Homo sapiens: one gene and its partners. The protein of the gene in region 1 purifies or fractionates together with the protein of each later gene. This does not show direct contact. Each region holds a gene or a part of one and is shown in the gene's direction. Other genes may lie near its edges.

Region 1 (4,229 bases):
TGCTTCATCGCCCCTTCACATCCAACTCATCACCAAGTCCTATTGATTTTGCTCCTACATTTCTCTGCAGCCTTCTTAGATCTCTTTTTCTTCACTCTCACCCTAGTCCACACTCCAGCTCCATTCTCTCTTGCCCAGATGACTGCACTGGCTCCCAGGCCAGTCCCACCATAGCTCTGTTGAGACTTCTCCATTTTGATCTGCACTTTAGCAGCCAAAGTGAGTTTTATAAAATGCAATTTTGACCAGTGTTCTATGGTCCTAAACTTTCCACTATGGTCCATAAAATCCTACATGGTCCTGCCCCTTCTATTCGCTCTAGTGGATCTCACTCCACTCCTTTATTCTCTAAACTCTGAGTTTCTTTTCTTTTTGTGGTAAAATGTACATAACCATTTTTAAGTGTGCAGATCTGTGGCATTTGGTACATTCACATTGTTGTGTGATCATCACTACTATCCATTTCCAGAACTGTTTCATCTTCTCCAGCTGAAATTCTGTACCTATTAAGCACTAACTTTCCATTTCCCCCTTTCTGGGTTTCTTTTCATCCCTCAAAGGAGCTCTGCTGCCTTCCACAGAGTTCTTATATACATGCTAATCTCTCCATCTGAAACACACTTCCTCTCCCCTTTGCCTAGTTAGCCTCCTGTGATTCCCAACACCAGCCTAGAAGCTTCTGTAAATTCTCCCAAAACCCCTGCTCCTCCCTGAAGAGCAGTTTGTATTTATACAGGTGTTTGATTGTTTGAAGGGTGCTCTCACCCTGCCTCCTCTCTTAACATAGTTTTTCGTGTCAGGAATTCCTCGCTTTGTCCACAACCCCTGGCACATAGCAGGTGCTCAATACTTGCTAAATGAATAAATGGACGGACTCTGCTACCTACCTAATCTCCTTCCAGCCAGTCATCCATCTGTGGGTGCCTCGGTCCCCAGCTTGGGGTGTGTCCCCCTGGGTCGGACTTTGGCGCCCCATCCAGGCTGGCAGTAGGTTGTGCTCTTTGGTTTGCCTATCTCGGGCCTCCCGCCCAGCCGCGCGGACCGCAGAACATACGCCCCGGGCGTTATCACTCTGTCACGCGGAGCCTCCCCGCCTCCAGACGTCAGTCCGGTTGCTACCCCGGCAGGAATCGAGCTTAGATCACGAAGGCTCCTTCTCACCTCCGGACGTGAGAATTACAGGCTTGGATCTCAAACCGCCGCGGTGAGAGCCGGGAGGTGGGAAGAAAGTTGGGAGGCGCGCGCCCCCGTCACACTCCCTCTCCGTTTGGGTCGCAGCCCTTTAAGAACCACTACGTTCGCGCCTTCGCCGGGACGGGGGCTGTGGAGGCGCGCCGGGATTGGTCGGTTTGGGTGCGGGTGTCGCTTAGCAGCAGCGAATGCGGGGTAGGGGGGAGGTGGGGTGGCTCAAGACTCGCGCACGCGCACCACGGCCTACCTGCGCCTGGGCTGCCGGTGACCTGGGCCGAGCCCTCCCGGTCGGCTAAGATTGCTGAGGAGGCGGCGGGTAGCTGGCAGGCGCCGACTTCCGAAGGCCGCCGTCCGGGCGAGGTGAGGGCTGGCGGGCGGAGGCGGGTGCCGCGGCCCGTTAGCCAAGAGCAGGCGGGTTAGGGTGTGGCGCAGGGCGGGCCCAGAGGTGGAGGCGGCCCAGGGCCCACCCGGCCCTCAGTCCCGGCCTTGACCATGGGGCTCCCCACGGGGCTTCACTGGGCTTCTTGGAGTCCTCTGTCCCCTTTCTCCCGTCAGCCTGTTCCCGGACCCCGGGGCCACCCAAGGCACGCGCCTGCAGGAACCCTGGGCTGACAGATGGGCGCCAAGGGCTTCTCCCAGTTGGAAGAGATGGGGAGTGAGAAAGGGGACGATTGTTTCTTTAACCATTCACGAAGCTCACGTCAGAGCATTGTTTAATCTGAATAGCAAACTTCCCTTAGCATGCCCGTGTTATTAGACTTTAAATATTGGATACACTGAACCAACTTTTCAGAGCACTAGGTGTAGGACGTTCCATTACAGGTTTTGTGTTCATTACAGATTTACACATGTACCTCCAGAGCCAGAAGGATAAAGCACTCGGGGAAAAATTAGGTTTGTAGAAATAAAAGCCACGGAAGACTATTGCCAGTGTGAAAAGTAATTGGTGAAATTTGTGACATGGTCAGAAAAAAATACAGCTCAGAACCAACATATAGGGTAATATTTAATTACATTTTGCAGAGAAGAGTTGATCCCACTAAAGATAATTTTAGTAAAATGAAAAATGGAAGCAACTGGAAATGGTTTAACGTTGCCAGATAGAATTAAATAAACAAATAGTGTTTCCTCTGGAAAGTACATTTTGGACAATGTTAATAGCTCTGATTTAAGTGTTTGCATTTGCAACAGAAGCCATCTTGGAGTCAGTGTTTTTTATTCTTAGAATAACTTAGAAATCAACTAAATTCAAAAAGTAACATGATCATAGAGAGGACAACCTGACTTCAAGGTAATACAGTGGATAAAGAGCAGTTGTAACAAGTGTAATCTCAGGCTCCTTCCTCTACCAACAGGTCTCTGATTAGCTTATTAGTGCTCTAAGGAGAAGAAATTATTTTAGAGAAAGGGAGTAGCTGTAATTCCCAAAGTTGGATTTGTAGAAGAAGGATGTGGTGGAAAGATCCTAGGCTTTAGAATATTTGAAGTAAGGAAGTCTGGGTTGAATCTAGCTTTACCTCTTGAGCCTTACAGCTGCAGTTTTCCCACCTATCCGGTATAGATTATGTCTACCTTATAGTTACAAGCATTTAATAACATTATCAGTGTAAAAGGTCCTATCAAGTTTAGTTCCCTACCCCTCTTAGTTCCTAACAAATGACGAAACTGACCTCTACCCTCCTCTTCACTCCATCCCCAAGCAACTTGGAGCCTTAATAGAATCTACAGATTTGGTAACCAGTTCTCAAGTCCTGTGGCTGAAGGTGAATTCAGTAAGGGTGGCACAACTCAGTTTTGTCTTCTGTATTGTGTATTTGAGTCTTCTGTATTCTGTATATACTTTATGGTGAACACTTTGTGTTTGAATATTTGTGTGCCAAATGAAGCCTGTTTTGTCTAAATTCCTATTTTGCAAGGTGCAGTCATCTCTCTCTTTCTCTCTGTTTTTCTCTTTCTTTCTGTCTCTCTCAGCCTCTCTCTCTCTCAGTGCATGTGGTAGGGGCTTGAGGAGGGGTTAAGGGTAAAAGGTGGAAGAAAAAACAGGATCAAGGGTAGCCTGCAGCATAGGCATAAAGTCTTTGTTAATAGAACAGAGATAATCTATGACATGAGCAGTTTATAAACAGATGCTGGGAAGAAGATTTAGGAAATAAGGGAGGCAAATTAAAATATGTTTTTATAAAACCTAGTAACACGGATGCTGTGTATTTGATTACTACTTCACTCTACTTTTAGACAAATTTCATCTGTATAAACCTTTCTCTTTTTCTCTCCAAATACAGATTTATTGTGGAAAAGTGTTCAAACTGTAGATCAGAACTATGGCAAGGGATCTGTAAACCTGCATTTCTTGTTTCAGTGAGCAAAAATAAGGCAGCCCTTAGGTCATTCATTCATTTAACTTAGCAGTGTTTACTGAGTGCTTCCTAATATGTACCAGGCAAGGTGGTAGGTTATGACATCCACTGCCTTGTGGAAGGATCTGGTAAGATCTGGAAGACATTCCAGTGTCTCTTGTATGAACATTCTGAAGCTGCCTTTGTCCTTGTGGAATTGATTTTCTTTTCTTTTCTTTTTTCTTTTCTTTTTTTTTTTTTTGTTTTTTGAGACAGGGTCTCACTTTGTTGCCCAGGCTGGAGTGCGGTGATGCAGTCGCAGCTCACGCAGCCTTGACCTCCTGAGCTCAAGTGATCCTCCCACTTCAGACTCCCAAGTAGCTGGGACCACAGGTGTGTGCCACCATGCCTGGCTTTTTTTTTTTTTTTTTGTAGAGATGGGGTGTCATTGTGTTGCCCAGGCTGGTCTCAAATTCTTGGACTCAAGCAGTCCTCCCGCCTCAGCCTCCCAAAATGCTGGGATGACAGGTATGAGCCACCATGCTCAGCCTGCTTTCCTAGTTTTTTGTTTTGTTTTGTTTTGTTTTGTTTTGAGATGGAGTTTTGCTCTTGTTGCCCAGGCTGGAGTGTGATGGCACAATCTCAGCTGACTGCAACCTCTGCCTCCTGGGTTCAAGTGACTCTCCTGCCTCAGCCTTCTGA
Region 2 (4,173 bases), on another chromosome or scaffold:
ATTTACAGTCACAAATTCTCAAGAGTCTGGTTTAGATGCTCTGTGGCACCTGAAGCAATTATTGGCCTTTGCTCACAAACACAACTCACTTATTTCTCCCTTTTCTCCTGCTTCTTCATCGTTTCTTCCACCCAGGGCTGGTTCCCAGGTGGGATGACGGAAAGGTGAGGAAGCCCTTAGAGCATTTGCCAATGGGAGCCATTCATTTGACTTTAAAGTACTGAGAATTTAGAGGCGTTCTTTTAAATGCATTATTTAAAAAGAAAGGTAACACATTAAGGACTTTGCTGCATCTTTTGATTGGCTTTCTTCTAGGAAGTAGTGACCGAGGTTTCCACTTTCCTCCAAGAGGAAGAGACAGAAGTTTTGGCAAATAGGTCAATGCTGGGAACAGATGCCTGCCTGGCTGAGTGCTGGGAAAGAAAGGCAGTTGGAGGGATGTGTGGGTGCCTGGGAGGGCGTGGGTGGTGCCCAGGAGGCTATGGGAATCAGAATCACACTTGCACAAGAGAAGACCCTTATGGGACAAGTAAAATCAGCATAGTTTCTTGGGCGGGGCAAAGGTGTCCTGATGAGGATGCTAGGGGTCAAATATGTGTCTGGGTTCTGCCCCAATCGGGAATGAGACACAGTACTGAAGTGGAACGGGGGTAGCATCTCCACCCACCTTCACAGCCTCTGGGGAAAAGAAAGCTTTCCTTGCAGCCCAACTCCAGGGGCCTAAATATTGAGCACCAACACAAGACAGGTCCTTGAGCTTCTCGGAGCGAGTCGGGGAAGCAGATAATTTCAGATGCAAAGTGCCTTGAATAAACAGAACGAAAGATAGAGAGCCAGAGGGGGAGAAACGGCTTGGTGTGGTCAGGGCAGGCATCCATGAGACCTAAACGAAGAGGGGGCATTCCAGACAAAAGGAACAGTGATCACAGAGGCCCCGAGTCAGGAACCAGCTAAGGGTCTTAGAGAAGAGCTGCCTCGTAAAGCTAAGCAACAATAACCAGGGAACGGTGGGCATGGGCCCTGATAGACAAGGCAGGTCTTGGCTTTTTAAGCCATAGAATTGGATTTTAGGAGGGATGGGCCCGCCGACAAAGCCAACAAAGTTTTAACCCGAAGATCGCTATCTTATTTATGCTTTAAAAAGACCTCTCTGGCCTTTCTGCGAAGCTCTATCCTTAGCTTTCTCTTGTTAGCATTTTGATTAACGAATGTGGGCACGAACAGCCAGCTGACCGACCGCGCGCGCAGTCGAGCGTCGGTTCCTCGCCTTGGGAGGGACCACTGGAGGCCCCGCCCCCTGGCCGCGAGCGCACCTCGGCCCCGCTCCCGAGGCCCTACGGGCGTGGCCTCTGTCCCGGGTCCCGCCCCCCAGCACTCCGGAACAGCGCGCTCGCAGCGGGAGGTCGCGAAGCCTGGGACTGTGTCTGTCGCCCATGGCCGCCGCGCTGCTCGCCCGGGCCTCGGGCCCTGCCCGCAGAGGTGAGTGCGCTGGGGATCCGTACGGCGGGGCTTCAGCCCGCGTCTGGCCCAGCGGGCGGAGGTCCTGGCGGCCGGCTCTGTCAGAGCCGCTGGCAGGCGGAGCCCCACTCCGGGAGCGCTCACGGCCTTTGCCCCAGTTCTGCTGCTCCTTGCGCCGACCCAGCCCGGCCCTTCAGGCGTCCCTGGTTCCTGCACAGACCCCTACCCCCCGATTGACCCCAGCCACCAGCCCAGTTCCCAGTTCCCATATCTCCCTCCCTTCATTTCACCCCCACTAGAGGTTCAGGGTGCGTCCTTCTTCCGGAGCCAGGCCTGGGATTGAACCAGACCCGCATCTGTGACCTTGGGCAAGACAGCCCCTCCTCAGCCTCGGTTGGCCCATGTGTAAAATGTCCACAGAGAAAATCAGAGTTGTTGGGAGGATTAAATCATAGGGTATGTAAAGCACTTCGTGCCTGGCGTGTAACAGGTGTTCCACAAATGCTCGTTCTTGCTGGTTAATACAGTACCTTTCCCATCTTACGTGTCTCCAGTTGTAGCAGCCGTGACACATATAGCCACGGCTTCCTTTGCCTGGCCTGAATTACAAGGGGAACGCTACTGAGAACTGTGTTAAGCGCTAGTTAGTCTTTCTTTCGCACTCCGAGGAGCGGAATACTATTCGCCTCCACTTGTTATAGAAACGGAGGCTCACTGACGTTTAAAACCCTTGCCTAAGGTCACAGAGCTGAGGTCTTATTACTGTTGGTATTATACTGAGGACTGAAGGATGTAGTGTATGGAAATGTCTAGTGAGTGTACTAAGCATTCAGTTAGTATGGGGTTTTCAGTGGCCGCCATGGACATTTTGGGCTGACAGTTCTTTGTTGTGGGGGCTGTCCTCTGCCTTGTTGGATGTTCAGCAGGGATCCCGGACCCCTATCCACTGGGTACCAATAGTATTCCCCTGCTCTAGTTGTGACAACTAGAACTGGCTCCAGACATTGCCAGATGTCCCTTGGAGGGCAAAATCCTCCCTGGTGAGTTAGTGGGTCACTAGGATTCTTGGAGACCTCCTGCCTCCTCCTTCCACTCACTTCTGCCCTTGCCGGCAGCTCTCTGTCCTAGGGCCTGGCGGCAGTTACACACCATCTACCAGTCTGTGGAACTGCCCGAGACACACCAGATGTTGCTCCAGACATGCCGGGACTTTGCCGAGAAGGAGTTGTTTCCCATTGCAGCCCAGGTGGATAAGGAACATCTCTTCCCAGCGGCTCAGGTGAGAGTGCAACCTCAGCAGCCCACGATAGTGGTCTGCCCTCTGCTACTGGATGAATGGTGGCAGTGACAGTCAGCGGCACTCGGACTCTGGTAGAGGAACCCCAAAGCAGGGCCTGGAACCCAGAAAATGCTCTGGAAGTTTCCCTTGTCCAGCCTGTGGCCAGTAGCCAGGACTTAACTTCTGGGACAACAGTAATATGTGGTGGATGGTCAGTTGCTTACTGTGCCAGCCACTGTGCTCATTCTAAATAGTGCCTTTAGGGTGTTTGGCATGCACTAGGCACTGTTCTTGAGATGGGTTATCTCATCTGTTCCTCACAACGGTCCTGTGAGGTGAAGGTACTATTCTTATTTATTTTTTTGAGACGGAGTTTCACTCTTGTGGCTCAGGCTGGAGTGCAATGGTGCGACCTCGCCTCACTGCAGCCTCTGCCTCCTGAGTTCAAGTGATTCTCCTGCCTCAGCCTCCCAAGTAGCTGGGATTATAGGCGTGCACTGCTCTGCCCCGCTACTTTTGTATTTTTAGTAAAGACGGCGTTTCACCATGTTGGCCAGGCTGGTCTCAAACTCCTGAATTCAGGTGATCTGCCCACCTCGGCCTCCCAAAGTGCTGGGATTACAGGTGTGAGACACCACGCCCGGCCAAAGGTAGTATTATTATATACCCCATGGACTCAGACTTGTGAACAAGTTAAATAACATACCCAAGGTCATGGAGCTCATCAGCGGCAGCCTGCTCGACCTATTTTCTTTTTTATTTACTTATTTTTTTTTGAAATGGACTCTCGCTCTGTTGCCCAGGCTGGAGGGCAGTGGCGCAATCTCAACGCACTGCACCCCTCTGCCTCCTGGGTTCAAGCAATTCTCCTGCCTCGGCCCCCAGTAGCTGGGATTACAGGCGGGCACCACCACGCCCAGCTAGTTTTTGTACTTTCAGTAGAGATGGGGTTTCTCCATGTTGGGCAGGCTGGTCTCAAACTCCTGACCTTAGGCGATCTGCCCGCCTTGGCGTCCCAAAGTGCTGGGATTACAGGCGTGAGCCACCGTGCCCGGCCTGCTTGAACTGTTTTCTCCCCTGAGTTTCCCATCAGCGCGCTCCCTCCCGTGCCACTGTGTTCTTCCATTTGCATTCAGTCTGTCTGCAGCTACGCGTTGAAGATGTTACTGCCGTACACGCTGACCTAAAGATGTCCAGCACCTGGTGTAAACACTCAGTAGTAGATAGTTGTTTAATTAATGATTTGTGAAAAGTCAAACCTCTCCGGCCTCTTCTCCTTGCCTGTTTTTTTTTTTAATTTTAATTTTAATTTATTTTTTATTTTTAAAAATTTTTTGAGACAGTCTTGCTCTGTCACCAGGTTGGAGTGCAGTGGCGCGATCTCGGCTCACTGCAACCTCCGCCTTCTGAGTTCAAACAATTGTTTCCTGCCTCAG
Region 3 (3,500 bases), on another chromosome or scaffold:
CCTTTTGATTATTCCTTGTAAGATGTGAGAAGCAGGTGAGACTCCATGTGCAAATCGGGGGGCGGGGTGGGGGCAAGAAATATAGTCTTATTAATTTTCTGTAACTGAACTTAATTTCTGTGCTGAAGGCTGGGCGCGGTGGCTCACGCTTGTAATCCCAGCACTTTGAGAGTCTGAGACGGGTGAATCATGAGATCAGGATTTCAAGACCAGCCTGGCCAAGATGCTGAAACCCCATCTCTACTAAAAATACAAAAATTAGCCGGGCGTGGCAGTGTGTGCCTGTAATTCCAGCTACTCGGGAGGCTGAGGCAGGAGAATCACTTGAACCCGGGAGGCAGAGGTTGCAGTGAGCTGAGATTGTGCCATTGCACTCCAGCCTGGGCAACAGAGCAAGACTCCATCTTAAAAAAAAAATGTTGGGCCCACATTATTTTCAGGGGTGAAAACTTAACCAGTGTGGGGATTGCCTTCCCCAGGAGCCCCTTTGGCTCTGCAGCAGCCTTTGCTGTGCAGAATTTGCAGGGATGTGGGAACTCAGGGAGGTGCCCCGGGCCCTGCTCTTTGGGCACTTGCCTCTGCCACTTCCTCTCTTGAGTCTCGACACCTTCCTGTGCATTATCTGGGGAAGGAGGGCAGAGGCCTCCTCTGTTCTCAGATTTCTCAGATCCCTTCTGAACAGGGGTTCAGCCCAGTGGGGAGGGCATAGGACACCTGTCTCAGGAAGTCATCAGCAACCTGGGTCTGACTTCCCCCTTTGCCTCCCCTTCCCCACTCTAGGGAGAGCAGCCCACACAGGGCTCTTACTCATCATCTGGTCTCTCTCAAACGGGTTCTTTCTCTCACTCTATCACATTCTCTGCTTTCTGTTTTTGAGACAATGAGCCTAGGACAATAAAAAACGGGATAAAAGGACATATTATTGGAGGAAAACGTTGCTTACTATTTCTAAAATCTTCTGCCCCAAAGATTTCCTGACCTACCCTCCATGCTCCTCCTCTGAGCAAAGCAGTAATTTTCTCCCAACAGCTGTAGACTAATTCCTGCTCCCCCTGCCCCCTCCCTCAGAGGACGCACACTAAGAAAACAGCATTCCTTTCCAGGTAAAGTTGAGCCCCGTGTCACTAAGTTTAAGTCCCTTTTCTCACAATCTGGGCACTCAGCCTTCATCCTGCCCAGGGGCCTGGGTTCTGGCTTTTCCATTCCTCCTGCCCCTGCATTTGGAACACATGAGTGACTCGCCCATTGACACGGCTCTATCCCTGAAGCTGAGAATTCCTTCCTCTAGAGTAACTTGGAGTTCTTTCTGAAAGGGTGGGATCTGCTGTCATCTGGGCCTCTGAGCCTTCTCTGTCCTCCCCTGTCTCACACACAGCACTCACTTTACCAGCTCTGTTAATTCCTAACCCAATTACAAAGGGCCATTCCTTCCGGGCACACGTCTTAAAATGGCCAGACCCTCTGACTGTCTGGAACTAATAATGGAAAATGTAGGTTAGATGGTTATTAATAGGTTTTTGCACACCGAAAGCCTCCTGGGGAGTAGGGAGCGGGCAGAGGGCAAGGCCTTCAACCATACAGCAAAGTAGGCAAGGAATTGTGCTTGGGGAGGGTGGAAAGCCTAGGCTTGTGATGGATGCAGGTTTTGCAGAGGCAGAGTGAGCCTGAAGGGGCCTCCAGCTTCCTGCCACTTCCTCTCGGTCTCACCCCAGGGCATCCTCCTGAACTGGACCAAGGGTTTCAAGGCATCAGACTGCGAGGGCCAAGATGTCGTGAGTCTGTTGCGGGAAGCCATCACTCGCAGACAGGTAGGAGCCTGTTCTAGGGGTGCTTTGGGGCTGTGGCAGGCCTTGAGGGGAGCAAAGAGTCTCCTACTTTCTGAGGGGGGAGCCCTCTGCGGTAGAGACCTCTGGGTCCAGTGCTGGTTGCTGTGACGACCGCGTTGCCCAGCAACTAGCAGCATCCTTTTGTGTGCAGGCAGTGGAGCTGAATGTGGTTGCCATTGTCAATGACACGGTGGGGACCATGATGTCCTGTGGCTATGAGGACCCCCGTTGCGAGATAGGCCTCATTGTCGGTGAGGAGGGCCCTGCCCTTTCATGCCCCTACTGCTTGGCAATTTGCTGCCTTCTGTTGATTCCTCTGGTTGGATGTTTCCTTGGCGGTGGGGATGTGGGATTGCTCTGGTCTGACCCAGTAGGGCTCTGGAACAATCTCTTGGGCTGGCAGTTTGGAGCTTGGGTGTATAGTCCAGCTCAGTGACTGACTCATGGTCATTTAAGCTCTCTGAACTTCACTTTGCCCATCTGATAAATGAATCTGAGCTTTGGAGTTGTACAGATTTGGGTGGAAATACTAGCTTTGTGTTTCCACCTGTATGACCTTGGGCAAGTCACCAGAGCCTCAGTTTCCTCATCTCTAAGATGGAGATAAGAGTAACAATGCCTGTCTCAAGGCATCATGAGGATGAAATGGGAGGGGACAAAATACAGCATGGTCCCTGGCTCATGGTACACACCTGGTGTTTGGAGCTGGGCGGGGGCAGGGGACCAATGAGCAATGAGGGTCCTTCAGACAGTCCAAGATTCCATCCTTATTAAGCACCTACCCTGTGTCCACAGGGGACTGGACAGAGGAATAGGAAGACACATAAAACAAGAGGCAATTTCTGCCTTCTCAGAACCGACCACTCAGCAAGGGTTAAGCCCAGAACAACACGTAGCGGTCAGAGAGTGACTTGATTCTACACGTGGGCAGCAGCGAGGCCAAGATCAGGAAGGAGTGGGTCCCAGGATGAGTGGAACTTGAAAGCCCTGAAAGAAAGGATTTGGCTCTGTTGGGGAGGAGGGATCCCACAGCTCCTGGGGCATTGGTCTCTCAACACGAGGCATGTGGCAGCCTCTCTTGAGGGGGAGGTTTTTGAACCCAGCACCTGGCACGGTTAGGCACTTGGGAGAGGCATGCCCAGGTTGCTGTGTGCATAAACAGCTGGACAGAGGAGCTCCAGGTGGGGCCAGCAAGGAGCCCACCTTCCTGGAGCTGAAGCTGTGTCAGAGAAAGGAAGGAGACGCCCTCATCCAGGGTGCGTCCTCTGCCTGGAATGCCTTTTTCTTTCTGTGCTTCTTGGATTCAGTCACTTCCTCTCTGTTGCTTTCCTGATCCTGTTGGCAGAGACTCGCCCCGTGGTCTGGGCTCCCACGATGCTCTCCTTGGTGCTTCCACGGGGGCACAGAGGCTCTGTCAGAGCTGGCTATTCATTGCCTGACCTCTGGCCAGACTGTGGGGCTCCTCGTCTCTGATTTCTCTGTGTCCCCTGCTCTTGGCCCAGCACCTCTTAGTTGGATTAAGGGCCTGGCAGGCCGGTCCAGGGAGCTTCGGCCTCTCAACCGCAGAGAGCTAGGGGCGAGGGCGGGGGATGTCACATGTCTCCCAGGGGAATGACAGGACAGCTGGGCATTGTAGGAGCACTTGGGGGTGGCATGGTGGATGCACTGATGGTG
Region 4 (3,917 bases), on another chromosome or scaffold:
GTAACTGGGTAGTGTGCATCCTGGGGAAAGTGAGGGAAATATGGACATCACATGGAACAACATCCAGGAGACTCAGGCCTCTAGGAGTAACTGGGTAGTGTGCATCCTGGGGAAAGTGAGGGAAATATGGACATCACATGGAACAACATCCAGGAGACTCAGGCCTCTAGGAGTAACTGGGTAGTGTGCATCCTGGGGAAAGTGAGGGAAATATGGACATCACATGGAACAACATCCAGGAGACTCAGGCCTCTAGGAGTAACTGGGTAGTGTGCTTGGTTTAATCTTCTATTTACCTGCAGACCAGGAAGATGAGACCTCTCTGCCCTTCTGACCTCGGGATTTTAGTTTTGTGGGGACCAGGGGAGATAGAAAAATACCCGGGGTCTCTTCATTATTGCTGCTTCCTCTTCTATTAACCTGACCCTCCCCTCTGTTCTTCCCCAGAAAAGATAGATGTGGTACCCATTGAGCCTCATGCTCTGTTCTTGGGAATCCATGGAGGGAAGATGTGCCTGTCCTGTGTCAAGTCTGGTGATGAGACCAGACTCCAGCTGGAGGTAAAAACATGCTTTGGATCTCAAATCACCCCAAAACCCAGTGGCTTGAAACAACCAAAATTTTTTCTTATGATTCTGTGGGTTGACCAGGATTAGCTGGGTAGTTCTGTTCCATGTGGTGGAACATGCTGGGGTCACTTTGGAAGCTGCATTCAGCAGAGTGCCTGGCTTGCGCTGGGCATCCAAGGTGGTCCCTCATCCTCCAGGCTCTCTTTCCATGTGATCTCTCAGTGTTTAAGAGTTAGTTGGAGCTTCCTTACAGCATGGCGGCTGACTTCCAAAAGGGATTATTCCAAAAAGAGCCTCAACATGCAGGCGCTTATTATGACTTCTGCTTGCATCATCCTATTGGCCAAAGCCAGTCACGTGGCTAAGTCTAGCCCCCTGTGAGAGGAGACTGCATAAGAGTGTGAACACCAGGAGACACGGTCACTGGGGGCCACCACTGTAACCATCTACCACAGGACCTGAATCTCTGTGTGCTACTCCCTTGCTCAAGGGCCCCCCTACCCACGCAGACCTGCTGTCTTCTAGCAAAGCCCATCCTCAGGACCTTTCTCTTCCAATCCTTATTGACTCAAATTGATTAGTTGGTGCTCCACCCAGAGCCCTGTGCTCCTTTATCTCATGTAATGTTAATGGGTTTCCCAGCCCTGGGAAAACATGGCTTTGTCTCAGGGGCTTGCTGGATGCAAGCTTAACCTCAATGTGAGTGGCCATACTGTGGCACTGTCCCATCCCTCACCAGGGACACTGTTCTGGAGGGTGACTGCCTGTTCTGTGAGGAGTGGGGATGGCTAGGACATTGCATGGAACACACCACCACCCCATCTTCTCAGAGCTCAAACCCTGACAGAACACCAGCTCCACAGGCCTTGGCTTCTGCTGATGGTGCCGTGTATTTACCAGACTTAGTGGTCCAAGGCCAGAGTGGCCAGATTTCCCAAAGTCAAGGTGTGACAGTGGGACAGCCTCTTTGTGTCTTTGCTGTCCTAAGAAACCTGGGCCAGGCCAGGCGCAGTGGCTCACGCCTGTAATCCCAGCACTTTGAGAAGCCAAGGTGGGCAGATCACGAGGTCAGGAGTTTGAGACCAGCCTGGCCAACATGGTGAAACCCTGTCTCTATTAAAAATAGAAAACATTAGACAGGTGTGGTGGTGCATGCCTGTAATCCCAGCTACTCAGGAGGCTGAGGCAGGAGAATCGCTTGAACCCAGGAGGTGGAGGTTGCAGTGAGCCGAGATTGTGCCACTGCACTCCAGCCTAGGCGACAGAGCAAGACTCCGTCTCGGGAAAATTAATTAATAAATAAATAAACCTAGGTCCCAGAGTCCCACAGAATGGCAGACAGGAGCACCTGGGGGCTTTTAGGGTATGGCATTTCCCCTGTACTAACTCTGGGCTGTCCAGAGGGCCATTTCATGGCGTGGAGTGGAGAGGGAGGCAGCACAGGACTTCCTAGGCCTCAGCTCTCACCTGCCCATCTTTTGATTTCCAGGCAGTTAACATCACTGACCTGAGCGAGAACAGAAAGCAGGACAAGCGCTTCGCCTTCATCCGCTCAGACAGTGGCCCCACCACCAGTTTTGAGTCTGCCGCCTGCCCCGGTTGGTTCCTCTGCACAGCGATGGAAGCTGACCAGCCCGTCAGCCTCACCAATATGCCTGACGAAGGCGTCATGGTCACCAAATTCTACTTCCAGGAGGACGAGTAGTACTGCCCAGGCCTGCCTGTTCCCATTCTTGCATGGCAAGGACTGCAGGGACTGCCAGTCCCCCTGCCCCAGGGCTCCCGGCTATGGGGGCACTGAGGACCAGCCATTGAGGGGTGGACCCTCAGAAGGCGTCACAACAACCTGGTCACAGGACTCTGCCTCCTCTTCAACTGACCAGCCTCCATGCTGCCTCCAGAATGGTCTTTCTAATGTGTGAATCAGAGCACAGCAGCCCCTGCACAAAGCCCTTCCATGTCGCCTCTGCATTCAGGATCAAACCCCGACCACCTGCCCAACCTGCTCTCCTCTTGCCACTGCCTCTTCCTCCCTCATTCCACCTTCCCATGCCCTGGATCCATCAGGCCACTTGATGACCCCCAACCAAGTGGCTCCCACACCCTGTTTTACAAAAAAGAAAAGACCAGTCCATGAGGGAGGTTTTTAAGGGTTTGTGGAAAATGAAAATTAGGATTTCATGATTTTTTTTTTTCAGTCCCCGTGAAGGAGAGCCCTTCATTTGGAGATTATGTTCTTTCGGGGAGAGGCTGAGGACTTAAAATATTCCTGCATTTGTGAAATGATGGTGAAAGTAAGTGGTAGCTTTTCCCTTCTTTTTCTTCTTTTTTTGTGATGTCCCAACTTGTAAAAATTAAAAGTTATGGTACTATGTTAGCCCCATAATTTTTTTTTTCCTTTTAAAACACTTCCATAATCTGGACTCCTCTGTCCAGGCACTGCTGCCCAGCCTCCAAGCTCCATCTCCACTCCAGATTTTTTACAGCTGCCTGCAGTACTTTACCTCCTATCAGAAGTTTCTCAGCTCCCAAGGCTCTGAGCAAATGTGGCTCCTGGGGGTTCTTTCTTCCTCTGCTGAAGGAATAAATTGCTCCTTGACATTGTAGAGCTTCTGGCACTTGGAGACTTGTATGAAAGATGGCTGTGCCTCTGCCTGTCTCCCCCACCGGGCTGGGAGCTCTGCAGAGCAGGAAACATGACTCGTATATGTCTCAGGTCCCTGCAGGGCCAAGCACCTAGCCTCGCTCTTGGCAGGTACTCAGCGAATGAATGCTGTATATGTTGGGTGCAAAGTTCCCTACTTCCTGTGACTTCAGCTCTGTTTTACAATAAAATCTTGAAAATGCCTATATTGTTGACTATGTCCTTGGCCTTGACAGGCTTTGGGTATAGAGTGCTGAGGAAACTGAAAGACCAATGTGTCTTTCTTACCCCAGAGGCTGGCGCCTGGCCTCTTCTCTGAGAGTTCTTTTCTTCCTTCAGCCTCACTCTCCCTGGATAACATGAGAGCAAATCTCTCTGCAAAAAAGATATGGGGCAGCACTGTCCACAACAGCCTCTGCTGGAAACAACCCAAGCACCCATCACAGAATGAATTAGTACATCATGTATCTGCACACAACACAGTGCTCCTTGGCAAAGAAAATGAATGAATTACAGCCAGCTGCACCTCACAAGACAGATAATCTTACAAACATCATGTGGGTACAAGAATCACAAAAGCATGCATAGAGTGTGATTCCATTTCTACAAAGTTCAAAACGGGCAACATGGGGCTGTTGTGTGGAGGGCTGTGGAAACAGGTGGTGCAGAGAGAAGCAAGGCCATGCTCTGTCTGAAGGCCCAGT

Evidence for each region. The genes of interacting proteins can lie anywhere in the genome.
Region 2: the proteins of SEC22C (region 1) and ACADS purify together in Homo sapiens (affinity purification with mass spectrometry; 3 studies listed by BioGRID and IntAct, with this or other methods). This does not show direct contact.
Region 3: the proteins of SEC22C (region 1) and HK3 purify together in Homo sapiens (affinity purification with mass spectrometry; 2 studies listed by BioGRID and IntAct, with this or other methods). This does not show direct contact.
Region 4: the proteins of SEC22C (region 1) and IL1RN purify together in Homo sapiens (affinity purification with mass spectrometry; 3 studies listed by BioGRID and IntAct, with this or other methods). This does not show direct contact.

What each region holds. Positions count from the first base shown.
Region 1 is NC_000003.12:42,579,168-42,583,396, reverse strand, and holds the start of SEC22C (vesicle-trafficking protein SEC22c), read left to right. Parts: upstream 1-1,429; 5' UTR 1,430-1,551; exon of another isoform or gene 1,552-1,557; intron 1,558-2,918; exon of another isoform or gene 2,919-2,954; intron 2,955-4,229. UniProt on the Homo sapiens protein: May be involved in vesicle transport between the ER and the Golgi complex.
Region 2 is NC_000012.12:120,724,453-120,728,625, forward strand, and holds the start of ACADS (short-chain specific acyl-CoA dehydrogenase, mitochondrial isoform 1 precursor), read left to right. Parts: upstream 1-1,373; 5' UTR 1,374-1,433; coding exon 1,434-1,479; intron 1,480-2,573; coding exon 2,574-2,737; intron 2,738-4,173. UniProt on the Homo sapiens protein: Short-chain specific acyl-CoA dehydrogenase is one of the acyl-CoA dehydrogenases that catalyze the first step of mitochondrial fatty acid beta-oxidation, an aerobic process breaking down fatty acids into acetyl-CoA and allowing the production of energy from fats.
Region 3 is NC_000005.10:176,882,347-176,885,846, reverse strand, and holds part of HK3 (hexokinase-3), read left to right. Parts: coding exon of another isoform or gene 1-21; exon of another isoform or gene 22-36; intron 37-1,029; exon of another isoform or gene 1,030-1,103; intron 1,104-1,712; coding exon 1,713-1,808; intron 1,809-1,977; coding exon 1,978-2,077; intron 2,078-3,500. UniProt on the Homo sapiens protein: Catalyzes the phosphorylation of hexose, such as D-glucose and D-fructose, to hexose 6-phosphate (D-glucose 6-phosphate and D-fructose 6-phosphate, respectively).
Region 4 is NC_000002.12:113,130,598-113,134,514, forward strand, and holds the end of IL1RN (interleukin-1 receptor antagonist protein isoform 1 precursor), read left to right. Parts: intron 1-447; coding exon 448-560; intron 561-2,058; coding exon 2,059-2,274; 3' UTR 2,275-3,417; downstream 3,418-3,917. UniProt on the Homo sapiens protein: Anti-inflammatory antagonist of interleukin-1 family of proinflammatory cytokines such as interleukin-1beta/IL1B and interleukin-1alpha/IL1A.